Homo sapiens: one gene and its partners. The protein of the gene in region 1 purifies or fractionates together with the protein of each later gene. This does not show direct contact. Each region holds a gene or a part of one and is shown in the gene's direction. Other genes may lie near its edges.

What was found.
Region 2: the proteins of ACTR3B (region 1) and ME2 fractionate together in Homo sapiens (co-fractionation; one large-scale study listed by BioGRID). This does not show direct contact.
Region 3: the proteins of ACTR3B (region 1) and CCT2 purify together in Homo sapiens (affinity purification with mass spectrometry; 2 studies listed by BioGRID and IntAct, with this or other methods). This does not show direct contact.
Region 4: the proteins of ACTR3B (region 1) and RBL1 purify together in Homo sapiens (co-immunoprecipitation; one large-scale study listed by IntAct). This does not show direct contact.
Region 5: the proteins of ACTR3B (region 1) and ARPC3 purify together in Homo sapiens (affinity purification with mass spectrometry; 8 studies listed by BioGRID and IntAct, with this or other methods). This does not show direct contact.
Region 6: the proteins of ACTR3B (region 1) and ARPC5 purify together in Homo sapiens (affinity purification with mass spectrometry; 6 studies listed by BioGRID and IntAct, with this or other methods). This does not show direct contact.
Region 7: the proteins of ACTR3B (region 1) and SBNO1 purify together in Homo sapiens (affinity purification with mass spectrometry; one large-scale study listed by BioGRID and IntAct). This does not show direct contact.

What each region holds. Positions count from the first base shown.
Region 1 is NC_000007.14:152,766,252-152,769,751, forward strand, and holds part of ACTR3B (actin-related protein 3B), read left to right. Parts: intron 1-3,500. UniProt on the Homo sapiens protein: Plays a role in the organization of the actin cytoskeleton.
Region 2 is NC_000018.10:50,927,618-50,931,117, forward strand, and holds part of ME2 (NAD-dependent malic enzyme, mitochondrial isoform 1 precursor), read left to right. Parts: intron 1-3,500.
Region 3 is NC_000012.12:69,588,459-69,591,958, forward strand, and holds part of CCT2 (T-complex protein 1 subunit beta), read left to right. Parts: intron 1-1,026; coding exon 1,027-1,229; intron 1,230-3,500. UniProt on the Homo sapiens protein: Component of the chaperonin-containing T-complex (TRiC), a molecular chaperone complex that assists the folding of actin, tubulin and other proteins upon ATP hydrolysis.
Region 4 is NC_000020.11:37,033,498-37,036,997, reverse strand, and holds part of RBL1 (retinoblastoma-like protein 1), read left to right. Parts: intron 1-1,489; coding exon 1,490-1,756; intron 1,757-3,500. UniProt on the Homo sapiens protein: Key regulator of entry into cell division. Directly involved in heterochromatin formation by maintaining overall chromatin structure and, in particular, that of constitutive heterochromatin by stabilizing histone methylation.
Region 5 is NC_000012.12:110,443,838-110,447,337, reverse strand, and holds part of ARPC3 (actin-related protein 2/3 complex subunit 3), read left to right. Parts: intron 1-1,786; coding exon 1,787-1,886; intron 1,887-3,500. UniProt on the Homo sapiens protein: Component of the Arp2/3 complex, a multiprotein complex that mediates actin polymerization upon stimulation by nucleation-promoting factor (NPF).
Region 6 is NC_000001.11:183,625,784-183,629,283, reverse strand, and holds part of ARPC5 (actin-related protein 2/3 complex subunit 5), read left to right. Parts: intron 1-1,689; coding exon 1,690-1,752; 3' UTR 1,753-3,500. UniProt on the Homo sapiens protein: Component of the Arp2/3 complex, a multiprotein complex that mediates actin polymerization upon stimulation by nucleation-promoting factor (NPF).
Region 7 is NC_000012.12:123,288,609-123,291,847, reverse strand, and holds the end of SBNO1 (protein strawberry notch homolog 1), read left to right. Parts: 3' UTR 1-2,739; downstream 2,740-3,239. UniProt on the Homo sapiens protein: Plays a crucial role in the regulation of neural stem cells (NSCs) proliferation. Enhances the phosphorylation of GSK3B through the PI3K-Akt signaling pathway, thereby upregulating the Wnt/beta-catenin signaling pathway and promoting the proliferation of NSCs.

The sequences.
Region 1 (3,500 bases):
GCAGTTAATTCCTCCAGCATCAGGCTGTGACAACACGTGTGCAATGCTCCGTACCAGGGAAGCTCCTCAGAGACACAGGGCCCAAGGTTTTCACTGGGGACTTGTCATGCAGGCACCCTGTGCATAGCACGTGCCGGAATTCCAGAGTCCCAGAAGGAAAGCAAGGCATTGGCATAAACCACGTTGTTTGCCACTCTAGGAGCAGTGAACTACTTTTAGCATTTAGGGAATGGTGGGAACGCCTGAACTCCAAGATCCTAGATACCAATTAAAGGCCATTCCTCCAAGCAGGACTTTCTAAGAGACAGCAGTCTCAGGCCCATTAACTTTCTTCTGCACATAGAGAATATTAACCCTTAATGATATACGTTGCAAATATATTTCCCCTATTTATCATTTGTCTTTTACCATGCAAAGTTTGTTTTCTTTAGGCAATCGGATTTATTCATCTTTTCTTTATTGTTTCTAGATTTTGAGTCATAGTTAAGAAAGGTTTTTTTCATTCCCAGATTACATGGTGGTTTCTTTTCTTCTTTTTCTTTTCTGTTTTTTTGAGACAGAGTCTCACTCTGTTGCCCATGCTAGAGTGCGGCGGCACAGTCTCCACTCAGTGCAACCTCCACCTCCTGGGTTCAAGCGATTCTCCTGCTGCAGCCTCCCGAGTAGCTGGGACTACAGGTGCATGCCACCACATCGGGCTAATTTTTGTATTTTTAGTAGAGAAGGGGGTTTTACCATATTGGTCAGGCTGATCTCAAACTCCTGACCTCAGGTGATCCACCTGCCTCGGCCTCCCAAAGTGCTGGGATTATAGATGTGAGCCACTGTGCCCAGCTGGTAGGTTTTTTTTTTTTTTTTAATGGTTTCATTTTTTTCATTTAAATCTCTAATTCATTTGGAATTTATCCTGAGATAAGGTATGAAGAATGGACCCAGTTGGATCCACTTTTGTGTGTGTGTGGCTATGGCTGTCCTGTTTATCTCAACATAATTTATGGAAAAAACCCAATGACTGGAGATGCTGCCTTTATCATATGCTGCATTTGTCTATGCAATTGTGTTTCTTTCTGGATTTTGTATTGTGTTGAGTTAGTCTATTGGTCTGTTCATAATAGCAGCACCACACAGTTTTAATTAGGCTCTTTAGAATGATTTCATTTCTAATGGTGCCGGCTTCCCCTGCCCATCTAATTCCTTTTTAGGGCTTTCCCATGTATTTTCGATTGTTGTTCCTCCAAGTGATCTTTGTAATCAGTTTCTCTAGTTCTGGGAGAGAAAGCCTGATGGCATTTTTATTGGGATTTTATTAAACTTAAAAATTAATTTAATGAGCATCATTATCTGTATAATACTGAGTCTTCCCATCAAAGAACATGGTTTATCTCTCCATTAGTTCAAGTCTATTTTGTGTCTTTTAGGAATATTGTGGTGTTTCTGCAGGTAGATTTCTTGTTAACTTTATGTATTTGATTTTTTTTTGCTATCATAAATGGTGCCTTCTCTTCCATTTTATCTTGTTTTTCTTGAATATATGAAGATTGTTAGTTTTTTCATTCCTAGATTACATGGTGGTTTTTCATGGTAGTTACTCATTTTATAACGTGCTGCTTTACAGAATGCTCATATTATTTGTATAAATTTTTCCCTTGATCCCTAGGGATTTTCAGATATAAAAACTTGTCATTGGGCCTGGCGCAGTGGCTCACACCTGTAATTGCAAGCACTTTGCGAGGCCGAAGCAGGCAGATCACTTGAGGCCAGGAATTTGAGACCAGCTTGGCCAACATGGCAAAACCCTGTCTCTTCTAAAAATACAAAAAAATTAGCTGGGCGTGGTGGCACACGCCTGTAATCCCAGCTACATGGGAGGTTGAGGCAGGAGACTCGTTTGAACCTGGGAGGCGGAGGTTGCAGTGAGCTGAGATTGAGCCACTGTACTCCAGCCTGGGCAACAGAGCCAGACGCTGTCTCAAAAATAAAAACCAAAACCTGTTATTGGCAAAAGAGATTGTTTTACCTCTTCCTTTCCATTTTTAGGGACTCTTAACTGCTTTTTTATTGACACAGTGCAGAGGCCATTACCTCCAAAGCAATGTTAATTTAAATCAGAGTGGAGTTAGTGGGCATTATTATTTTATTCCTGATTTTAGTGGGATAGTTCTGGTGTTTGTTTGTTTGTTTGTTTGTTTTCACTTATTGTGGCCTAAGAGGGTTTGCGAATGTTCTTTGTATTCATTTTTTTGAGTCAGAGTTTCACTCTTGTTGCCCAGGCTGGAGTGCAATGGAGCGATCTCGGCTCACTGCAACCTCCACCTCCTGGATTCAAGCAATTCTCCTGCCTCAGCCTCTCAAGTAGCTGCAATTACAGGCGCCCGCCATCACGCCCAGCTAATTTTTTATATTTAGTAGAGACGGGGTTCCACCATGTTGGCCAGGCTGGTCTCGAACCCCTGACCTCAGGTGAGCCACCCACCTTGGCCCCTCAAAGTGCTGGGATTACAGGCATGAGCCACCGCGCCTGGCTAGGAGATACAATCTTTATAAGTTCTGAGTTTAATGTGTCTATATGAACTACCTTATTAATTATGTTATTTAGGGCTTCCAATTTTTTTTTTTAATTGAGACCGAGTCTCCTTCTGTCGTACAGGCTGGAGTGCAGTGGCGTGATGTCGGCTCACTGCAACCTCCACCTCCTGGGTTCAGGCAGTTCTTTGCCTCAGCCTCCCGAGGAGCTGGGATTATAGGCACCCGCCACCATGCCTGGCTAATTTTTGTGTTTTTAGTAGAGACGGGGTTTCTCCATGTTGGCTAGGCTGGTCTCGAACTCCTGACCTCAGGTGATCCACCCGCCTCTGCCTCCTAAAGTGCTGGGATTACAGGGGTGAGCCACCATGTCTGGGCTCACATTTTTGTGTGTGTGTGTACCTAGTCTGTCATGGACTGAGAATGGCATACTAAGGCCTCCTATTGTTAGTAACCTATTAAGGTCTCCTCGCATTTTCTGTGGGTTCTGCTTTATGAAAGTTGTTGCTGCCATATTGGTTATCTAGATAGAAATAACTTGTCTCTTCACTAGAGTTGTTGATTTAGCATATCAAGTAGCCTTCTAATTGTTTTCTCAGCCGAGTTGTACTTTGTCAGATATCAAGATGTGTGATCCCTGCTTGCTTCTCCTTGTGTTTGTCTGATATAGATATATATATATTTCTCCATCCTTTTATTATTCTTTCTGAATTGTCTGTACCCAAAATATTGTTTTGCTTTTTAGTCAATATGAAAATGTTGCCTTTTGTTGGATGACTTAAGCTCATTTATACTCATAGATAGGTGATTTAAGCATATTTATATGTATTGATATGATTGATATATTTGGCCTCAGTTTTGCAATATTTACATATATATGTATTTAAACATCTTTTGCCATGTAGTCCATTTTATTTTATTAATATCTTTTTTGGTGCACTTTAGGGCAGACTGTATTTTTGTCTAATTGTTATCAT
Region 2 (3,500 bases), on another chromosome or scaffold:
TGTGAACCCACGAGGCGGAGCTTGCATTGAGCCGAGATCGCACCACTGCACTCCAGCCTGGGTGACAGAGCAAGACTCCATCTCAAAAAAAACCCCAAAAAACCATATATATATATATATATATATATATATATACACACCACAGTACTGTTATACCTCATAATTTGAACAATAATTATATCTTGTCATTTAATTTTTTTTTTTTTTTTTTTTTTGAGACAGGGTCTCTCTTGGTTGCCCAGGCTGGAGTGTAGTGGCACAGTCATAGCTCACTGCAGACTCCAATTCCTGGCTCAAGTAATCCTCTTGCCTCAGCTTCCTCAGTAGCTGGGACTACAGGCAAATACCACCACACCCAGCTAATTTTTTAATTTTTATTTTTGTAGAGACAAGGTCTTGCTTTGTTGGCCAGGCTGGTCTCAAATTGCTGACCTCAAGTGATCCCCTGCCTCAGCCTCCCAAAGTGCTGGGATTACAGACATGAGCCACTGTGCCCCACCTAATTTCTTGAATATGTGAATTGCAATTAAAATTTTCTGATGGTAACAAATATCTCACTCATTTTTATTATCTATCTTTTGTTCTGTCTTGGTTATCAGGTTTGTTTGTAAGGCTAATTTGTCCTTTTTTTTTTCTTTTTTTTTTTGAGATGAAGCGTCACTGTGTTGCCCAGGCTAGAGTGCAGTGGCGTCATCTCACCTCACTGCAAACTCTGCCTCCCAGGTTCACATCATTCTCCTGCCTCAGCCTCCCGAGTAGCTGGGTGCCCGCCACCATGCCCGGCTAATTTTTTTGTATTTTTAGTAGATATGGGGTTTTACCATGTTAGCCAGGATGGTCTCGATTTCCTGACCTTGTGATCCGCCCGCCTCGGCCTCCCAAAGTGCTGGGATTACAGGCATGAGCCACTGCGCCCGGACTGTTTTTGTTTTTCTTAATTGAGTGATGGATAGTGTAGAAAAAGAACTATAGCAATAATTTAAGGCTGTGGATAAAGTTATTTTTGGAGAAAGGGACTTTACTTTTTCAAGTAGATCGCCATAATCCAGTCAGGATGTGGTCCACATGAGGCCTGGGGTATTTCCAGTTTGCCCTTTCTCCTGATATCCACCCCTTTGGGTATGAATCATCAAAAGTCCTGAGGTATTTATCAGCACCTCTCATCCTTAACGGTCCCTGAACATCCATTTTCCTCTCTGTCATCATGAGACTTTGGGTGGCTTTGCTGTTCAGGGTCTCAGTCACAGCTTTTGATTTGGAAATCAGCAGTCATCTTGAGGGGAAGAGCTTCAAATGCTAGGCTCATATATCTTGCTTCCCTCTTCTTTTGAATCTTGGAAACCTCTCTTCCCCAACACCAAACTCTCACTATCTTGTTAGGTCTCTGCTTGCTTACAAAAATTTTTAAAAATGTATTTTATCTGGTTTTTTAAATTGTAACCAGAGGAAAATTTGGTATGAAACAACCCAGAAAATCATTGCCAAAGCAGAACTCTCAGAACTTCCTGAACTTAATATTCATACTTTTGATATATTTGGCATTCTTTTTTTTTTTTTTCCCATTGTTAAACACTGTGTAGGCCAGGCACAGTGGTTCATGCCTGTAATCCCAGCACTTTGGAATGCCAAGGTGGGCAGACCACTTGAGGCCAGGAGTTCAAGATCTGCCTGGCCAACTAAAAATACAGGTGAAACCCTGTCTCTACTAAAAATACAAAAAAATTAGCCAGGTGTGGTGGCTCACACCTGTAGTCCCAGCTACTCAGGAGGCTGAGGCTGGAGAATAGTCTGAACCCAGGAGGCAGAGGCTGTGTGAGCCAAGATCGTGCCACTGCACTCCAGCCTGGGCAACAGAGCAAGACTGTCTCAAAAAAAAAAAAAAAACCAACAAAAAAACAACCTTTATGTTGACACATGTATTCTCTCAAAATTCCTTTTTGACCTTTTTGACCACTCCATTAGTCAAAATAAATTCTCATGACTGTTAGTTTCCAATTGATATAATAATTATTGAAATCTCTTCTTCTAAATCAATCACAAAATCACCATACAGATATTTAAAAATTAGTCTCTTTAGTATACTGTCTTATCTTTTTATTACTTTTAGCTTGATTGCCTGTCCTCTTCACCAGGTTTTACTACTTAAAACTAATGGTTATTGTTCCCCAAATTAAATCTTAGTCTTCTACAATGACTCTTGGGTAAATATATTAAATGCATCATGGATCGTTGACATTTCCAAAATATAAAAAATTTAAGTGTTTCGAGTAGTAGTGGTATATCACCAGAAGACTGCTCATTTAAGAATTTTGTTTTTTGTATAAATATTATTGTAATAAATGTACTTTATTGGAATAAATAAAAATTCCCCAAGGAGACTAGTTTGATATACTATATTTCATCAGTTTTAAGATCAAGGATTGCTTGAGCCCATGAGTTTGAGACCAGCCTAGGCAACGTAGCGAAACCCTGTCTGTATAAAAAATTTAAAAATTAGCCAAGCATGGTGGCGCACACCTGTGGTCTTAGCTACTTGGGAGGCTGAGGTGGGAGGATTGCTTGAGCCCAGGAGGTTGAGGCTGCAGTGAGCTGTGATCGTGCCACTGAACTCCAGCCTGGGCAACAGAATGAGACCCCGTCTCAAAAATAAATAAATAAAAAGAGCATGGTGTCATAGTTTACTTTTACATAAATTCTTTCTTAGTGTTACATGAAATAATGGCATAGAATTTTGACTAGTCGTCACCTGTTAAATTTTTAGTCCCATTTTGTTTTCACCAGGGAGGTGTTACTCCAACACCGTTTGCTGCTCAGCGAGAAAAATACTCTAAAAAAAAATCTTCATAGTTGAATTGCCAGCTGCTTACATAGACCAAGTTGGACTTCAGAATAAGAATATACTATTATCATTAAAATCTGGCCACGTTTAAGCCATGGATTAATTATTGAGTTAAATGGGCAGGGAGGCAGGGATGGTGACCTGGAGAACGTGAACTGCTATAGAATCTTGTCATTATTGAAGAGATTCCCAAGATCTTTCTAAATTTCCAAACTTACTGATACCATGAGAACATTTTTTCCATGATGTGCTATATTGTATAATCTACCTTATAAGACTATTAAAATTAATGGTGCCAGAAAAATAATTATGTACTTATTGTGATAACATGTATGACATTAACCATGAACTAACCTTAATCATCAAAGAAACAAAATTTTTAGTCACAAGTAATGTTTAGAACAGATAGATAATTGTAATAGCTATCCATAGAATAGGTAGAAAATGATATAACAATATAGAGTTGCAAGTCTAAGATAGTCAGCTCTGCCCTACTAGCATAGTTAGCTTGCTTCTACTCTTAAACCTTGTATCATTTTGAAATGGAAAGTATGTCTTGTAAAAGTAGTGGTTACTCTGCATTATTGACCTTCAGATTACCTGGAGTCAAATTCTTGAATGTTAAATCCACTAAAGCCAAGGGTCTACAATGCTATAAAGA
Region 3 (3,500 bases), on another chromosome or scaffold:
TATCATCAAAATATACAAATAAAGCAAATAGTATAATACTGTATAGAGAATTTGTTAGCCTCTTTTTAACCTAGTTAAATATTAAGCACATTTTTGGATGTCAATTTTCTGTGCAGTATTTTAATAGAGTTACACATTTGAATATTTGGCTAGAATGACTGTATTAACCTATCTGTAGGGGGAGATTTGTGTATTTGATGATTTTTAGCATTATAAAATAACTTTGTGACGTTGCGACATAGCCCAAAGGTTTCTAGAAGTGTAATTGTTGGGTCCAAAGGTAAGTGTGTGTGTTTTAAGGCACCCCCAAACCTGGGCTGCACAGCAGGTGAGCAGCAGGTGGAAAAATTGTCTTCCCATGAAACCAGTCCCTGGTGCCAAAAAGGTCCGGGACCACTGTTTTAAGGCACTTCTATTTATTTGCCCATTCACAACTGTATAATAATACTTGTTTTTCACGTCCTTTTATTTATTTATTTATTTTGAGACGGAGTCTCGCTCTTAGAGTTGCCCAGAATGGAGTGCAGTGGCACGACTTCGGCTGACTGCAACCTCTGCCTCCCGGGTTCAAGCGATTCTCTTGCCTCAGCCTCCCAAGTAGCAGGGACTACAGGCATGTGCCATCATAGCCAGCTAATTTTGTATTTTTAGTGTAGATGGGGTTTCACCATGTTGCTCAGGCTGGTCTTGAACTGACCTCAAGTGATCCATCCTCCTCAGTCTCCCAAAGTGCTAGGATTACAGGCGTGAGCCACTGTGCCCGGCCATTTCTCACATTCTTGCCAACATTAGACTTTTGCATGCTTGTGTGGCCCCCACCCCTCTTTTTTTTTTGGCATTTTGCCAGTTTGGTGGGGAAAATAACATCTTTAATTTGTGTTTCTTGATTACTGCTGAGGTTTAATTCTTTTCATATAGCTTACAGACTTGATCAGTTAGGGTAAAATTATCTATTGACATGAATATCTAGATAAATTTTGAAAAGTAAAGTAGGGTTAATATGTATATTTGGTTGGTTTTATTTAGTTCCGATGAAGTTAAATTCCGTCAAGATTTAATGAATATTGCGGGCACAACATTATCCTCAAAACTTCTTACTCATCACAAAGACCACTTTACAAAGTTAGCTGTAGAAGCAGTTCTCAGACTGAAAGGCTCTGGCAACCTGGAGGCAATTCATATTATCAAGAAGCTAGGAGGAAGTTTGGCAGATTCCTATTTAGATGAAGGTATGTATGAATGTCAGATACAAGAAGCTTTGATTAGATGCTGAGGGCTGAATACTGAGTGAATTCTGTTTTGAGACCAGTGACCCTTTACAAAGCCAGTGAACTTGAATTTAAGGACATATCATATGTGCAACCATTTTTGTCATTTTATTGACAGTGTACTCCTCTTCCCGCGCTATTCCAGCATTGTTGATGATCTCTAGAGTTTACTTAACTACCATGAAGTTATTTGCAGTCTCTGATAAAGAGGAAATGTTTTCTTTTACTAGAAATCATCTATTCTCAAATGGTACTTTTACCAGGATTATATGTATTCTCCAGGAAGGGTCTGGGTCAGTCAAATCATTGTGTTAGCTGGTTGTTGAGGATGTACAGTTGACCATTGAACAACATGGGTTTGAATTATGTAGGTTCACAATGCAGGTTTTTTCAATAAATATAGTCAGCCCTTTGTGTCCGTGGTTTGCACATGTGCAACCGAACGTGGATGGAAAATGCAGTATTTGCAGGATTTGAAACCCATGTATATAGTGGGCCAGCTTTTCAAATCTGCTGGTTCCAGTCAGCCTGGAACTTAAGTATGTGGGGATTTTGGTGTATGTGGGCGTCTTGGAACCAGTCCCCTTCGTATACTGGGGGATGACTAGTTTTTTTTAGAAAAGAATTAAAAAAAATTTCTTTAACAAATAATTATGTATGTTTATAGGGCAAGAGGATCTAGTTCTTAAAGAGTGATAAATGAGACATAATAAGTACTGCTTTCTTAGTAGTACATTTTTGTTTAGAGTGAAGTTTTCCAGATCATCTTCACATTATATTTACTTCACAAAATGGCCTGTCAAAAAGTATAGGCATTCTTATATAGAGAAGGAAAAAAAAAGAATTAGATGGTGCTTTACAACTTCTGTTTTTACCAGTGGTTTGGAGTCCTGGTTTTGTTCTGTGTCATAGGTCTTGATTTATTTTAAGAGAGAGTCATAATTCTGAAAATACTCTTGATTAAGTTTATATACAAGAGCTGTGTAGCATTTCTTTTTTTTTTTTTTTGAGACGGAGTCTGGCTGTGTCACCCAGGCTGGAGTGCAGCAGTATGATCTCGCCTCACTGCAACCACTGCCTCCTGAGTTAAGGCGATTCTCCTGCCTCAGCCTCCTGAGTAGGTGGGATTACAGGCGTGTGCCACCATGCCTGGCTAACTTTTTTGTATTTTTAGTAGAGACGGGGTATCGCCATGTTGACCAGGCTGGTCTCGAACTCCTGACCTAAGGGGATCCACCTGCCTCAGCCTCCCAAAGTACTGGGATTACAGGCGTGAGCCACCATGCCTGGCCGCTGCGTAGCATTTCTGATAGGGGCTGGTGGTAGGGAAGGAGCATTAAAACAAGAATATTAGTAGCACAAGCAGCACCATTCTTGAATGTCTGCTCTGTACTAGGAATTGTAATAGGAACTTTAGTCATTTAGTCATCATGACCTGGTGAGTGAGGATTAGGTTCACTTGAATAGAGTAGAAAACCCAAGATAATGGTGGCTTCATAATGGAAAAGTTTCTAATGTAACCAAAAAAAGGCCTAGAAAGGTAGGTGGTACTGGGTTTGTATGATGGTTCCAAAGCAGCAGGACTAGGCTGGTAACTAGCACCTCTGCTACTGGTTACATTCCTGTTTTACAAATTAGCATTTCTGGTTGGATAATTTGTCGAAGGTTATATAGCCAGCAGCAGGGGCATGATCAGGGTCAGATTTATCTGACTCCACGGTGTCCATGGTTTTTCCATTTTTACCACCAGCCTCAATACCTGAATCTTCAATTTTTCTCTTGTGGTGGTGATTTTAAGCTAATAAAAATATAGGACTTAACCTATTGTCTTTATATTGCAACCCATACAGATGTGGGTGTAGCGTATATCTGAAACAAAAGTTTCAAAATACTGTTTAATTTTATTGTCTGTACTGTGCTCTTATATTTTCTGTTTCATATTTTTTAAGTAACCCATTAAATTGATTTTGTAATAACTCTTCTAGTGGGATGCTTTATACCAGAAGTGTCCAAGGAAGAGAATACAGTCATGGGTTCCTAGTTTCTGTTTCTGGTTGGGTCGGTAAAGCCCCTTCCTCCTCCCTCTTTTCTGCTTATCACTAGAGACAGAAACTAAAATCCATGGCTTTCAGGCGCTAAAAGCCTAAAAGCAAAACAACAACAGAATAAGGCAGGTTGGACAAGCTTGCTTTTATGCCTTCTAAGAGCTTGGTAAATTGGACTTAAATAGCT
Region 4 (3,500 bases), on another chromosome or scaffold:
TACAGAGAGCTTCTAAATCATTGCCAGGGGTCATTTTCATACCTTTTGAACATGTTTTGAAAATAGATTACAGGGCCAGGCGCAGTGGCTCACGCCTGTAATCCCAGCACTTTGGGAGGCCGAGGCGGGCAGATCACGAGGTCAGGAGATCGAGACCATCCTGGCTAACACGGTGAAACCCCATCTCTACTAAAAATACAAAAAATTAGCCGGGCATGGTGGCGGTTGCCTGTAGTTCCAGCTACTCAGGAGGCTGAGGCAGGAGAATGGCGTGAACCTGGGAGGCGGAGCTTGCAGTGAGCTGAGATCATACCACTGCACTCCAGCCTGGGCAACAGAGCGAGACTCCATCTCAAAAAAAAAAAAAAAAAGAAAAGAAAATAGATTACATGACTATCTAATTATCTAGTGAATGTAAAAATAAATAATGAAGGCCGGGCACGGTGGCTGAAGCTTGTAATCCCAAATGAGGCAGGTGGATCACCTGAGGTCAGGAGTTCAAGACCAGCCTGGCCAACATGGCAAAACCCTGTCTCTACTAAAAATAGAAAAATTAGCCAGGCATGGTGGCACATGCCTGTAGTCCCAGCTACTTGGGAGGCTGAGGCAGGAGAATCGCTTGAACCCAAGAGGCAGAGGTCACAGTAGGCCAAAATCGTGCCACTGCACTCCAGCCTGGGTGACAGAGCAAGACTCCATCTCATAAATAAATAAATACTTTTGTTTTAAAAGCATATTATTGACCTACCTGTAAGGAATAATTGGTTGAGGGAAGAATTGTGAAAAAAGATGTAGAAAAGATGTAGGGTTGTAAGGGGCTAGAAAAACCCGTGCAGCTGGTAGAGAGGGAATGGAAAGCAGATCCTGTGAAAGGATAGCACAGGAAGAGAGGCAAAATCCATAATCCTTACTTTATTTTTGATCAACACAGTACTGCCAACCCTCAGATTAAGGCAAGGTAAGCAGATTTATATCATCTTTACTCATATCTTCTGATAGATTTACTAAAGATGATTCCATATCTACTAAATTAGAAAGCCAGAGCTACCGCCTTAAACTGCTTGGAGTGCAAATATTCACAAAGAGGCAAAACTGTGACCCAAATTCCTGATTTTTGCTTTTGCTTCCCTTCTTCTCAGGTGCTCTCTACTAGGTAAGATTGGGAGATATTGGACTACTACTAAAATTTAGTGCTCACTTCATTCTACCTCTCAACCTCTACTTTGTCCTTAATGTTTTGCTCCTTTAATGTAGGCAGAGGTTCAAGAAACCAGGAAGATGAGTGATCATAATTTTCACGTTTTATCGTAGTGACTTATTTCATGCCTCTTTCTCCCAGTAGACTACATATTCCATGAGGGCAAAGGCCATGTTATTCATATCTAGCTAGTGCCCAGCATAAGTAACTCACTATCTGTTGAGTGAATGAGTAAACCTAATTTATTATTTTGGAATACATTTCTGTTTTAAATTTATTATTTTTTTTTAGATATGCAACCATTGTCTCCAATTTCTGTCCATGAACGCTACAGTTCTCCTACCGCAGGGAGTGCTAAGAGAAGACTCTTTGGAGAGGACCCCCCAAAGGAAATGCTTATGGACAAGATCATAACAGAAGGAACAAAATTGAAAATCGCTCCTTCTTCAAGCATTACTGCTGAAAATGTATCAATTTTACCTGGTCAAACTCTTCTAACAATGGCCACAGCCCCAGTAACAGGAACAACAGGACATAAAGTTACAATTCCATTACATGGTAACGTTATAGTGCATTTGTTTTGTACTTTTTCTGAGATAAAAATTTAAGAAATGTCTTAGTGGATTAGATCACATGGTTTTTCTAACTCATTATTTTTTCTTGAACCTATACTTTTTTTTTTTAAATAGATTTGAATTTTTTAGAGCAGTTGTAGATTCACAGCAAAATTCAGAGGAAGGTACAGACATTTCTCATAGTCCCCCTTCCCCAACCAGAGGCATATAAAGCCTCCCTCATTATCAGTATTCCACACCAGAATGCTACATTTGTTACAGTTGATGAACCTACATTACTGACACATTACCCAATGCCCATAGTTTACATTAGGGTTCACTCTTGGTGAATAGTTTATTGATTTTGAGAACGTATAATGACATGTATCTGTCACTATAGCTCCATACAGAGTAGTTTCACTGCCCTATAAATCCTCTGTGCCCCACCTTTTTGTTTTGAACCTATAGTGGTTTTTTTTTTATTTTTAAATTTTATAAATTTACTACCCTCTCTGTTTGTTTAGACTTATTTTACTTTTTCTTTTCTTCTTTTTTTATTTTTTGAGACAGGATCTCACTCTGTCACCCACATTGGAGTACAGCAGCATGATCTCATCTCACTGCAACCTCTGCTCCCAGGCTCAAGTGATCGTCCCACCTCAGCCTCCTGAGTAGCTGGGACCACAGGCAAGTGCCACCACTCCCAGCTAATTTTTTCTATTTGTGGTACAGATGAGGTTTTACCATGTTGCCCAGGTCTCAAACTACTTTTAAAATGTTCTTATCTGAGCTTTCCAATATGTATGTATTGAGCAAAAATTCTGTTTTTTGACTAACAGCTCAAGTGCTCAAAATGTTAAAAAAAAAAATGCTTTTTTTTCCAATAAATTTAAACTATAAATGTATCCCAGGCAAATACAAAATAGAGAACAAAATTTGCTTTTTTTTCCATAAATTTAAAGTATAAAAACAAAACCGAATATTCTTGTTTCTAGAAAATAAGGATTTATGCGGGGCATGGTAGCTTTCACCTGTAATCCCAGCACTTTGGGAGACCAAGGCAAGAGGATCACTTTAGCCCAGGAGTTTGAGACCCAGACTGGGCAACATAGCAATATCCTATCTCTACAAAAAATTAAATTAGCTGGGCATGGTGATGTATGCCTATGGTCCCAGCTACTTAGGAGGCTGAGGCAGGAGAATCACTTGAGCCCAGGAATTTGAGGCTACAGTGAGCCATGATCACGCTACTGTACTCCAGCCAGGACAACAGAGCAAGACATTGTCAAAAAAAAAAAGAAAAAGAAAAAAAAAAGGGGGCCCGGGGGGCGCCAGGCACAGTGGCTCACACCTATAATCCCAGCACTTTGGGAGGCTGAGGCAGGTGGATCACTTGAGGTCAGGAGTTTGAGACCAGCCTGGCCAACGTGGTGAAACCCCGTCTCTACTAAAAATAGAGAAAAAACATTAGCCGGGTGTGGTGGCGCATGCCTGTAGTCCCAACTATTCAGGAGGCTGAGGCAGGAGAATTGCTTGAACCTGGGAGGCAGAGGTCTCAGTGAGCCAAGATGAGGCCACTGCACTCCCACCTGGGTGACAGAGTGAGACTGTCTCAAAAAAAAAAAAAAAAAGTCCAGCTGCAGTGGCTCATGCCTGTAATCCTAGCATTTTGGGAGGCCAAGGCAGGCAGATGGCTTGAGCTGACGAGTTCGAGACTAACCTGGGCAACATGGCAAAACTCCCATCTC
Region 5 (3,500 bases), on another chromosome or scaffold:
ATAAAAAGCCAGACATCTTGTAAAAAGCAGAACTAAGAATCAGCATACAAAATGCTCTCATAAATGTGATTTTTTTTATCCCTTCCTTTAACACACACCTACCCACTGAAGGGAATATATATCTTCTCATTTTACAAATTTGGAAACAAGCTAAGAGAAGAAGAATGATGTCTTGGTCAAAAGCATAACGCCATGAAGTGGCAGAGCTGAAAAGATAGTGCTTGGGTCTTGGTTTAGCTGGGGGCTGGGTACCCTGATTTATATGATGTTTGTCTTTCTGTAGTGGAAATACTTTGGCCAGATACCAATGTGATGTCACCGAACATAGAATTGGAAGAGATGCACAGCAGCACCCCATTATTTAGTATTTCGTAATAATAACCTTAAGAACATAGACAATAGTAAAATGTAATTTTTAAAAATTAGGTTATTGCCGGGTGCAGTGGCTCACGCCTGTAATCCCAGCACTTTGGGAGGCCGGGGCGGGTGGATCATGGGGTCAGGAGTTCGAGACCAGCCTGACCAACATGGTGAAACCCTGTCTCTACTAAAAATACAAAAATTAGCTGGGCGTGGTGGCACGCACCTGTAATCCCAGCTACTTGGGAGGCTGGGGCAGGAGAATCGCTTGAACCCAGGAGGCGGAGGTTGCAGTGAGCAGAGATCGCGCCACCGCACTCCATCCTGGGCGACAGGGCAAGACTCCGTCTCAAAAAAAAAAAAAAATTAGGAAGTAGGCCAAGTGCAGTGCAGTGGCTCACATCTGTAATCCCAGCACTTTGGGAGGGCAAGGCGGGCAGATCACCTGAGGTCGGGAGTTCGAGACCAGCCTGGCGAAAATGGAGAAACATCGTCTCTACCAAAAATACAAAATTAGCTGGGCGTGGTGGCTTATCCCTATAATCCCAGCTACTCAGGAGGCTGAGGCAGGAGAATCACTTGAACCCGGGAGGCGGAGGTTGCAGTGGGCCAAGGTCATGTCATTGCACTCCAGCCTGGGCAACAAGAGCCAAACTCTGTCTCAAAAAAAAAAAAAAAAATTAGGAAGTAGCCAGGTGTGGTGGCTCACACCTGTAGTCCCAGCCCTTTGGGAGGCTGAGGCAGGAGGAACACTTGAGCTTAGGAGTTTGAGATCATCTTAGGCAACATGGTGAGACTCCTTCTCAAAAAAAAAAAAAGAAGTGATGAATACTTAAGCATCATTGTTTTTAACATTATTTACTTTTTTTTTTTTTTTGAGACAGTCTTGCTCTGTTGCCCAGGCTGGAGTGCAGTGGCACGATCTCGGCTCACTGCAGCCTTCGCCTCCTGGGTTCAAGTGATTCTCCAGCTTAGCCTCCCACATGGCTGGGACTACAGGCGCACGCCGCCACGCCTGGCTAATTTTTTATATTTTAGTAGAGATGGGGTTTCACTGTGTTGCCCAGGCTGGTTGCAAACTCCTGAGCTCAGGCAATCTGCCTGCCTCAGCCTCCCAAAGTGCTGGGATTACAGGCATGAGCCACCACGTCCAGCCAACATCATTTACTTAATTGTAAGTTTATATAATTTGATTTTTGAGAAGAGCTGTGTTTAACAACCAGCTTGAAAAATGCCTCAAAATTTAACAATTGGTTTTCTTGAGCCAGAAAGAACCAGCCCTCGCACCTCAATGCTGCTATCCCTTCTCCCTCCCCTAATTAATCTTGGGTGGTTTACTCTTTTTTTCCTTTAAGGGAAGGTTGTTTGCCACAGTGACATTTGCTCTTTTTCTGCTTCTGTGTTCTTCCTGGGCTTGCCATTACAGGCTTACCACTCTTCTCTCATGGATCCTGATACCAAACTCATCGGAAACATGGCACTGTTGCCTATCAGAAGTCAATTCAAAGGACCTGCCCCCAGAGAGAGTAAGTCTAAACCCATTATTTTCAAATTTTGGTACGAAATGCCTAACAATCTTCTGAAATGATCAAATCAGAAAAATTCTTAGCTCAGTCTTCTCTCTCAAATTGCCCTTGTACTTTGCTTGGTAGATACTGTGGTCTAGACCTTTCAAGATAGTGGTTATATGTTGCATTTAATAGGAAATTGTATTATTTCTTCTGACTTCTCCAGGAAACTCTTTTGAGAAAATGGAGGAAATGTGCTTAATTCTGGACACTGTTTATCAGTTCTTTCAAACAAATCTAATGCTGTTACGTCTAGAATGCCACATGCCCATCCTTTCTGTCATCAACCTGGAAAAGAACAACAACAAATATTTTAACCTCTTCCTCGTCTAAATCTACTTCCTTTATTCATTCTTCAAGATCTTCATTTTTAGCAATACCTCAATCTTAAATCTGAAGTGTACTATGTAACATTACTTACGTCTATTCCCGCTTTTCTGAATTTTATTTCAGAAAGCCGCAATATTTTTCAGACACTGTCTGAGACTCTTCTGATGCTTTCTGAGATGTTCTCCCAACAGTATAATTTGTATTATGTTAGACATGGTTTCCCTGTACCCTGCAAGGGTCTGAACTGAATTCCATTCATGGTTTCCAAGACCATTATTATAATTACCAATTTGGTACTTATCCAGTCCCCATTTCTCTGCCAGACTGTTTGACTTGACCTTTTTTAAACTTAATTTTGTTTTCAACACCATTTGAAAGCTCAGTAAACTTAATGCATATGGTGAGTCACCACAGTCTCTACTTGATTCTGAGGAAAAGGAACAAGGAAGAAGACAGCCTGGGAAAGAAGAAAAATAACATAAAAGAAAATCACAAGGCTGGGTGCGGTGGCTCACACTTGTAATCCCAGCACTTTGGAAGGCCAAGGCAAGTGGATCACTTAAGGTCAGGAGTTCGAGACCAGCCTGGCAAACATGGCGAAACCCCAACTCTACTAAAAATACAAAAATTAGCTAGGCATGGTGGTGGGCACCTGTGATCCCAGCTACTCAGGAGGCTGAGACAGGAGAATCGCTTGAACACAGAGGGTGGAGGTTGCAGTGAGCCAAGATTGCACCACTGCACTCCAGCCTGGGTGACAGAGTGAGACTTCATCTCAAAAAAAAAAAAAAATTTTTTTTCACTGCAAAGGCCAGGCGTGATGGCTCACACCTATAATCCCAGCACTTTGAGAGGTCGAGGTGGGTGGATCACCTGAGTTCAGGAGTTCAAGACCAGCGTAACCAACATGGAGAAACCCCATCTCAACTAAAAATACAAACAATCAGCCGGGCATGGTGGCGCATGCCTGTAATCCCAACTACTTGGGAGACTGAGGCAGGAGAATTGCTTGAACCTGGGAGGTGGAGGTTGCAGTGTGCCGAGATCATGTCATTGCACTCCAGCCTAGGCAACGAGCAAAACTCTGTTTCAAAAGAAAAAAAAAAAAAACCTGAATTGGAATGGAGGCCTGTGCTGTGAGCTAAATAACAGCATTAATCACACTAATTCATTTATATTCAACAAATATCTGTAGAATGCCTTTTATGTGCCAAGTATTCTTCTAATTTCAGAATCCTTTGG
Region 6 (3,500 bases), on another chromosome or scaffold:
CAGCGTAGTTCTAGCATAGCCTCAAGATTGCAGTGAACATTGATTACTTATTATATTCCACATATTCTTCAAAGGACTTTATAAATATTAACTCATTTAATCCTCATAAAAATGGAGGGAAATGCTTGCTATTATTCCTCTTTTGTCACTGAGGAAACTGAGGCATGTGTGAAGTCTTCATTTCTTCCAAATGTCAGTCACCAGTTTTTACCAATCTTCGAAGTATTTCTGAAATCTATCTGTTCAAGCGTATCTAATGCAGCTGTTCACAGCATCTCTCCCAGTCTGTTGCCATAGCTTCCTGACTGGTTTCCCAGTTAACAGTTTTGCCTCCTTCAAATCTGTTCTCCACCCAGCCATCAAAATGATATCTTTAAAATCAAAATTGCCCTTGTCAGTCACCTGCAGGATAAAGTCAAAGTTCCCAAGTCTAGCTTCATCTTCCATGTCATTCTTCCCCTCAGGCTATAGCAATGCCAGCCTTTTTCCTGAATGCACCATATTGTTTCACACCTCCATACATTTGCTCATGATTTTCTGGTGTTAGCCTGTCACCTACTCATTCTTTTAATGTGTCATTTCCTCCATGAAGCCTTAGCTGAAACATTCCTCTATACTGTTAATCTGGGTATAAGCCTCTCCCTGGTGCTTTAATAGCACCTGCAGCACAACTCTCATTTCATACATTAGATTAAAATTACCTGTTTATATGTCTGTCTCCTCATGCTAGACCAGAAAATGCTGTATTTGTTCACTTTTGTATCCCCAGCATCTAGCACAGTACTCAGTATACAAAGGTATTCCATAAATATTTTTTGAACAGAAAGAAACCAGAGCTCAGATTCCTAATACTTGATCATTACTCTCTATTTTTCAAATTAGAGTCAGAGTTAAAGTTTCTAAGTTCTTAGCTATTAAACAATACCTTCTTTCTTTGGGAGAAAAAAAATCTGACAAAGGCTGACTAATCGAAGTGGAAGTTGGGATGGTTGATCCCAGTTTGAATTTTCTTCTGACTATGTGGTGAGAATGAGAAATGCAGAATGTCCACCTGTTTTGAGCAGGAACACTATGCTGCAGATTTTTTTTTTTTTTTTTTTTTTTTTTTTTTGAGACGGAGTCTTGCTCTGTCGCCCAGGCTGGAGTGCAGTGGCGCAATCTCGGCTCACTGCAAGCTCCGCCTCCTGGGTTCACACCATTGTCCTGCCTCAGCCTCCCGAGTAGCTGGGACTACAGGCACCCGCCACCACGCCCGGCTAATTTTTTGTATTTTTAGTAGAGACGGGGTTTCACCATGTTAGCCAGGATGGTCTTGATCTCCTGACCTCGTGATCCGCCGGCCTCGGCCTCCCAAAGTGCTGGGATTACAGGCGTGAGCCACCGCGCCCGGCCTATGCTGCAGATTTTTTAAAACATTATTTAGAATTAATGTACTAAAATGTAAACTAGTATCTCACTAGAATGTAACTTCATGAGGGCAGGGACTTTCAAGGTTTTGTTTATTACTGTAACCTCAGTGCCAAGAACAGTACCTGGTGCATAATTGGTGCTCAAGAATTTATTATTTGTTAACTAATAAATTCAGGGTCTATAGCAGTGCCCATTCCTTCTTTAAGAAAAATGTTTTACCAAATATGAGAATTGACCTTTTATTATTCTGTCAACATTTACATCTTGGTTTGTTTTTAGGCACTTGCTGCTGGAGGAGTAGGGTCCATTGTTCGTGTCTTGACTGCAAGAAAAACTGTGTAGTCTGGCAGGAAGTGGATTATCTGCCTCGGGAGTGGGAATTGCTGGTACAAAGACCAAAACAACCAAATGCCACCGCTGCCCTGTGGGTAGCATCTGTTTCTCTCAGCTTTGCCTTCTTGCTTTTTCATATCTGTAAAGAAAAAAATTACATATCAGTTGTCCTTTAATGAAAATTGGGATAATATAGAAGAAATTGTGTTAAAATAGAAGTGTTTCATCCTTTCAAAACCATTTCAGTGATGTTTATACCAATCTGTATATAGTATAATTTACATTCAAGTTTAATTGTGCAACTTTTAACCCCTGTTGGCTGGTTTTTTGTTCTGTTTTGTTTTGTATTATTTTTAACTAATACTGAGAGATTTGGTCAGAATTTGAGGCCAGTTTCCTAGCTCATTGCTAGTCAGGAAATGATATTTATAAAAAATATGAGAGACTGGCAGCTATTAACATTGCAAAACTGGACCATATTTCCCTTATTTAATAAGCAAAATATGTTTTTGGAATAAGTGGTGGGTGAATACCACTGCTAAGTTATAGCTTTGTTTTTGCTTGCCTCCTGATTATCTGTACTGTGGGTTTAAGTATGCTACTTTCTCTCAGCATCCAATAATCATGGCCCCTCAATTTATTTGTGGTCACCCAGGGTTCAGAGCAAGAAGTCTTGCTTTATACAAATGTATCCATAAAATATCAGAGCTTGTTGGGCATGAACATCAAACTTTTGTTCCACTAATATGGCTCTGTTTGGAAAAAACTGCAAATCAGAAAGAATGATTTGCAGAAAGAAAGAAAAACTATGGTGTAATTTAAACTCTGGGCAGCCTCTGAATGAAATGCTACTTTCTTTAGAAATATAATAGCTGCCTTAGACATTATGAGGTATACAACTAGTATTTAAGATACCATTTAATATGCCCCGTAAATGTCTTCAGTGTTCTTCAGGGTAGTTGGGATCTCAAAAGATTTGGTTCAGATCCAAACAAATACACATTCTGTGTTTTAGCTCAGTGTTTTCTAAAAAAAGAAACTGCCACACAGCAAAAAATTGTTTACTTTGTTGGACAAACCAAATCAGTTCTCAAAAAATGACCGGTGCTTATAAAAAGTTATAAATATCGAGTAGCTCTAAAACAAACCACCTGACCAAGAGGGAAGTGAGCTTGTGCTTAGTATTTACATTGGATGCCAGTTTTGTAATCACTGACTTATGTGCAAACTGGTGCAGAAATTCTATAAACTCTTTGCTGTTTTTGATACCTGCTTTTTGTTTCATTTTGTTTTGTTTTGTAAAAATGATAAAACTTCAGAAAATAAAATGTCAGTGTTGAATAATTTATTTTTCTCTGACTTTAACAATTATGAATGTATGGTTAATTAAGAGGAAAGGTTTTCTGCTTCTACCACCAAGTACTGTACTCTTAACAAGAACAGTTTGGTAGGGTTTTTATAAGACTATATAGATATAAGATGATAGAGAAGAGAGTCATGAATGATGTCAGAGCACTACTGAAGCCTTTGGAGTGATTCCATAGCCTTCTGGATGGCAGCTGAATACCTATATGTAGTATCACTGCCCAAAGACCTAGACTAGAAAGTGCAAAGTAGCTTAGCAGCTGCAGTCATTCACTCCCAGCCTCCAAAATTCTCTTTCTTTCACCTCAAATCTATTTCTTGTACTTACCTACTCACAGCGACTTCTGTTTGCTTTCGATCTTCACCTGACTAGATTCCCACTTTAAAACACT
Region 7 (3,239 bases), on another chromosome or scaffold:
TATATAGAGAAATGTTGAGTTCTTCTGGATTCTGAATGTAAATAATTCTTGTAAATTGGGACTCTGCCCACCTGTTTCTCCCTTTTCCCTCTTCCCTTCAGCTCTATTTATTCTTTTCTTGACTTTCCCATATGGGGCATCTTATGACTTTTTTTTTTTTTTTTTTTTAAGAAAAGTATGGAAAACTTTTCATTTAGAAAAGTATTTGTTCCTGTATTTTAGAATTCAGTTTTGCATCTTTGCTGTAGAATTCCTGTTTTGTGTTAATGTTTTTTACTATGTCTTATTGTGTTGTGTGCAATGCATTGTACTGGGGGGATGCACTTGAGTGCCATTTCTGATACTGTCATTGTATGACTGCTGATGCTCGTTTATGTTGTTCTTTGGAAGCTATAGTGAGCCTGATGTTTTCACATTTTAAAAAATGCTTCCTGAGACTTCTTTAAGCTCCTCTAACTTCTTCAGTGCATTTGGGATCAAACTTAGCTCTTAGATCAGCAAACCTGACTTGCTTCTACTTTTGCAATTTTTCAGGCCTTACCATATTTCTTATCTCTGTCTTCCCACCTGATAGGAAAATCTTGCAGATTTGAAACAGTGGTTTCTGGCCTGCTGCTGCAGCAAATTCCCTATGTTTATTTAAGAAGTCGGGCCTATGCTTTTAACCTACAAATGATGAGTAATTTACTTGCAATGAACACAGGTAGCCTGCTGCTGTTTATAACCTGTTGAGGATATTTATAGCAGGCAGGAGGCAGGCCTAGTGTGTTATTGACAGGTGACTTTAGAGAATGTACATTGGCCGGGTGCGGTGGCTCACGCCTGTAATCCCAGCACTTTGGGAGGCCGAGGCGGGCGGATCATGAGGTCAGGAGATTGAGACCATCTCCTGGCTAACACGGTGAAACCCCGTCTCTACTAAAAATACAAAAAAAAAAAAAACTTAGCCAGGCGTGGTGGCGGGTGCCTGTAGTCCCAGCTACTCAGGAGGCTGAGGCAGGAGAATGGCATGAACCTGGGAGGCAGAGCTTGCAGTGAGCCCAGATCGCGCCACTGCACTCCAGCCTGGGCAACAGACCGAGACTCCGTCTCGAAAAAAAAAAAAGAGAGAGAATGTACATTAAGGAACAATTGTCCTCCAAAAGAGAGCCAAGCAACTGCTCTGGAGCCTCCTAGGCTGACTCTGCTGGAGGGTGAGACAAGCAGATTCCCATTGCAGCACTGGTCCCTGGGGTACCCTGAACGGCTGTGCTCTCCACCCTTGTATCGGTGAGTGGATCTTGTCTACATCAGCCGTAAGCCTAGAAGCAGAGCGGGATCGAGGCGTTTTTAATAATTCGAGTTGGGAAGACCCGGATGGTTCATCAAAATGATGGTGTTGAGCACCCGGGAGGCAGACATTGGGTATTTGTTCACAATTTTGCACCTGTAAGAAAATGTTCCTTTATAACTTTCAAGGATTGCCGTGAGCGTCTTTGGGGCCTTTTCATTCATGTACAAGTTTCATTCATTACTATTCAACTTGGTAGACTTGGTGAAAAATGTAAAAGCATTCTGTATTTGGATCAGTCTTGGGAACTAAATTTGTCGTGAATTGGGGCCTGTCACAGATTGCCTCCAGTGTGCATCCTCCACGCAGACCCTCCTTGCTCAGTCTCCCTCTGGCGCCCATGGGGAAGCCGTGCTGTGGTTGGCAGTGCGGCCATCTGGGCTGCCGCAACGTGGCAGGGCACCGTCCAGCAAGACTGCCCCTTAGTGCAGGGCTAAGCAAGGAAAAGAAGAAGCCCAAAAAGGCGGGTTCTTTTTGATACTTGTAATTCAGGCGTCCTCCAGAGTGAAGGCCACTCTGCAGGCCCCTGGTGAGAACCTGTCTGGCTTTTCCACTGCGGGCCCCTAACCAGTACCCTGCCCTTGTGGCCCATTTGTGCCTGGGCAGATGTTTCTGGCCAGCAGACACTGAAGGCCTTTTTGCTGTGACAGTATTTATGGCACTGAAGAGGATAAAGAAGCTTGAGCCCTCTTTCTGACTCCCACTTTATGGGGCAGAGAGAGCTTTTTTTCTACATAGCACATTGCAGTCTCACCGCTATCAGAAAAATATCCTGTTCATGGTTTATACTGAATTTGCAAACTACTGATATGATTTTTCAATAACCACTTGTATCTTCCATCATCCATGAGAGGTGGGAAGAGGTACACTGTATCTCTGCAATAAAACTTTGGCCAGGTTCTACCTCCTCTGAGCAAAGGATACTTTTCTATGTAGGTGTAGATGGTTCTCCTTTACTAATCTGACATGGTGCATCTGGAGACAACATCTGATGGGATCCAAAGACAACTTGAAACAAAGGTGGATGTCAGCTCTTGGTGTGTTTTCATTTGGTTCTCTTTTTTAAATCTCCCTTTTGTTATCGCTCCTGTTGTAGCGTGTCCATCAGTGTGTGAAGGGTGCGCCCTGTTCCAATGATACTGCATTGCTGCATCCAGCCTTTCGTGGGAGCACGGTACCAAGCGTCCGGAATTGATTATCCCAATCATTTTTGATATGTAACTGAAAAATTTGGTCTCATGCAATAAAAATGTACTGGCTGCATTTTAGCAAGGTTTATTTACTCTTGCAAGTAAAAACGATCAACCGTGAAGCGTAACAAATTCTGTATTTAGTTTTTTTTTCTGTTGTGGTGGTTTTTGTTTTGTTTTTTGTTTTTGTAAGATTCTAAATAAATTAAATACGAGTCACGGGTTGTGCTTTCTTTGCGCGCTGTCTTCGCAGATCTCATGAACATCTTCATAGTGTCTTTATAAAATGTAAGTGCTGTCACCGTGCCTTTGCAGATGGCACAGGCACTGAGTCAGGGAGCCAGCCAGGGTGGGGCGGTGCCCAGCCCAGGTGCAGTGTGTGGGCCCGGAGTGGGCTGCTGTCTTGGACTGCTGCGGAAGGCGGTGGGAGGGAGAAAGGGCTGGGATGCGAGTGGGAATCTGAGCAGCGTTTAGTGCATGGCTTGTCTGGGAGTTTCTCTGTGATTATTTCAAATACTTGGGAGAAGGATGTTCAAATTTTAGCTTGAAATGCGTAAGGGTATTCGATCAAATTTGTAAATAGCATTAATGTTTAGGGGGGATTTAACCTCCTGAATATATGAGATAATTGAGCATTAATTGAGGAACAAGTCAAAAGGAAGTGTTTTAACTAAAATTTGATTCAGTATTTTTGAGTTTGAAAATTGAAAGAAACAGGT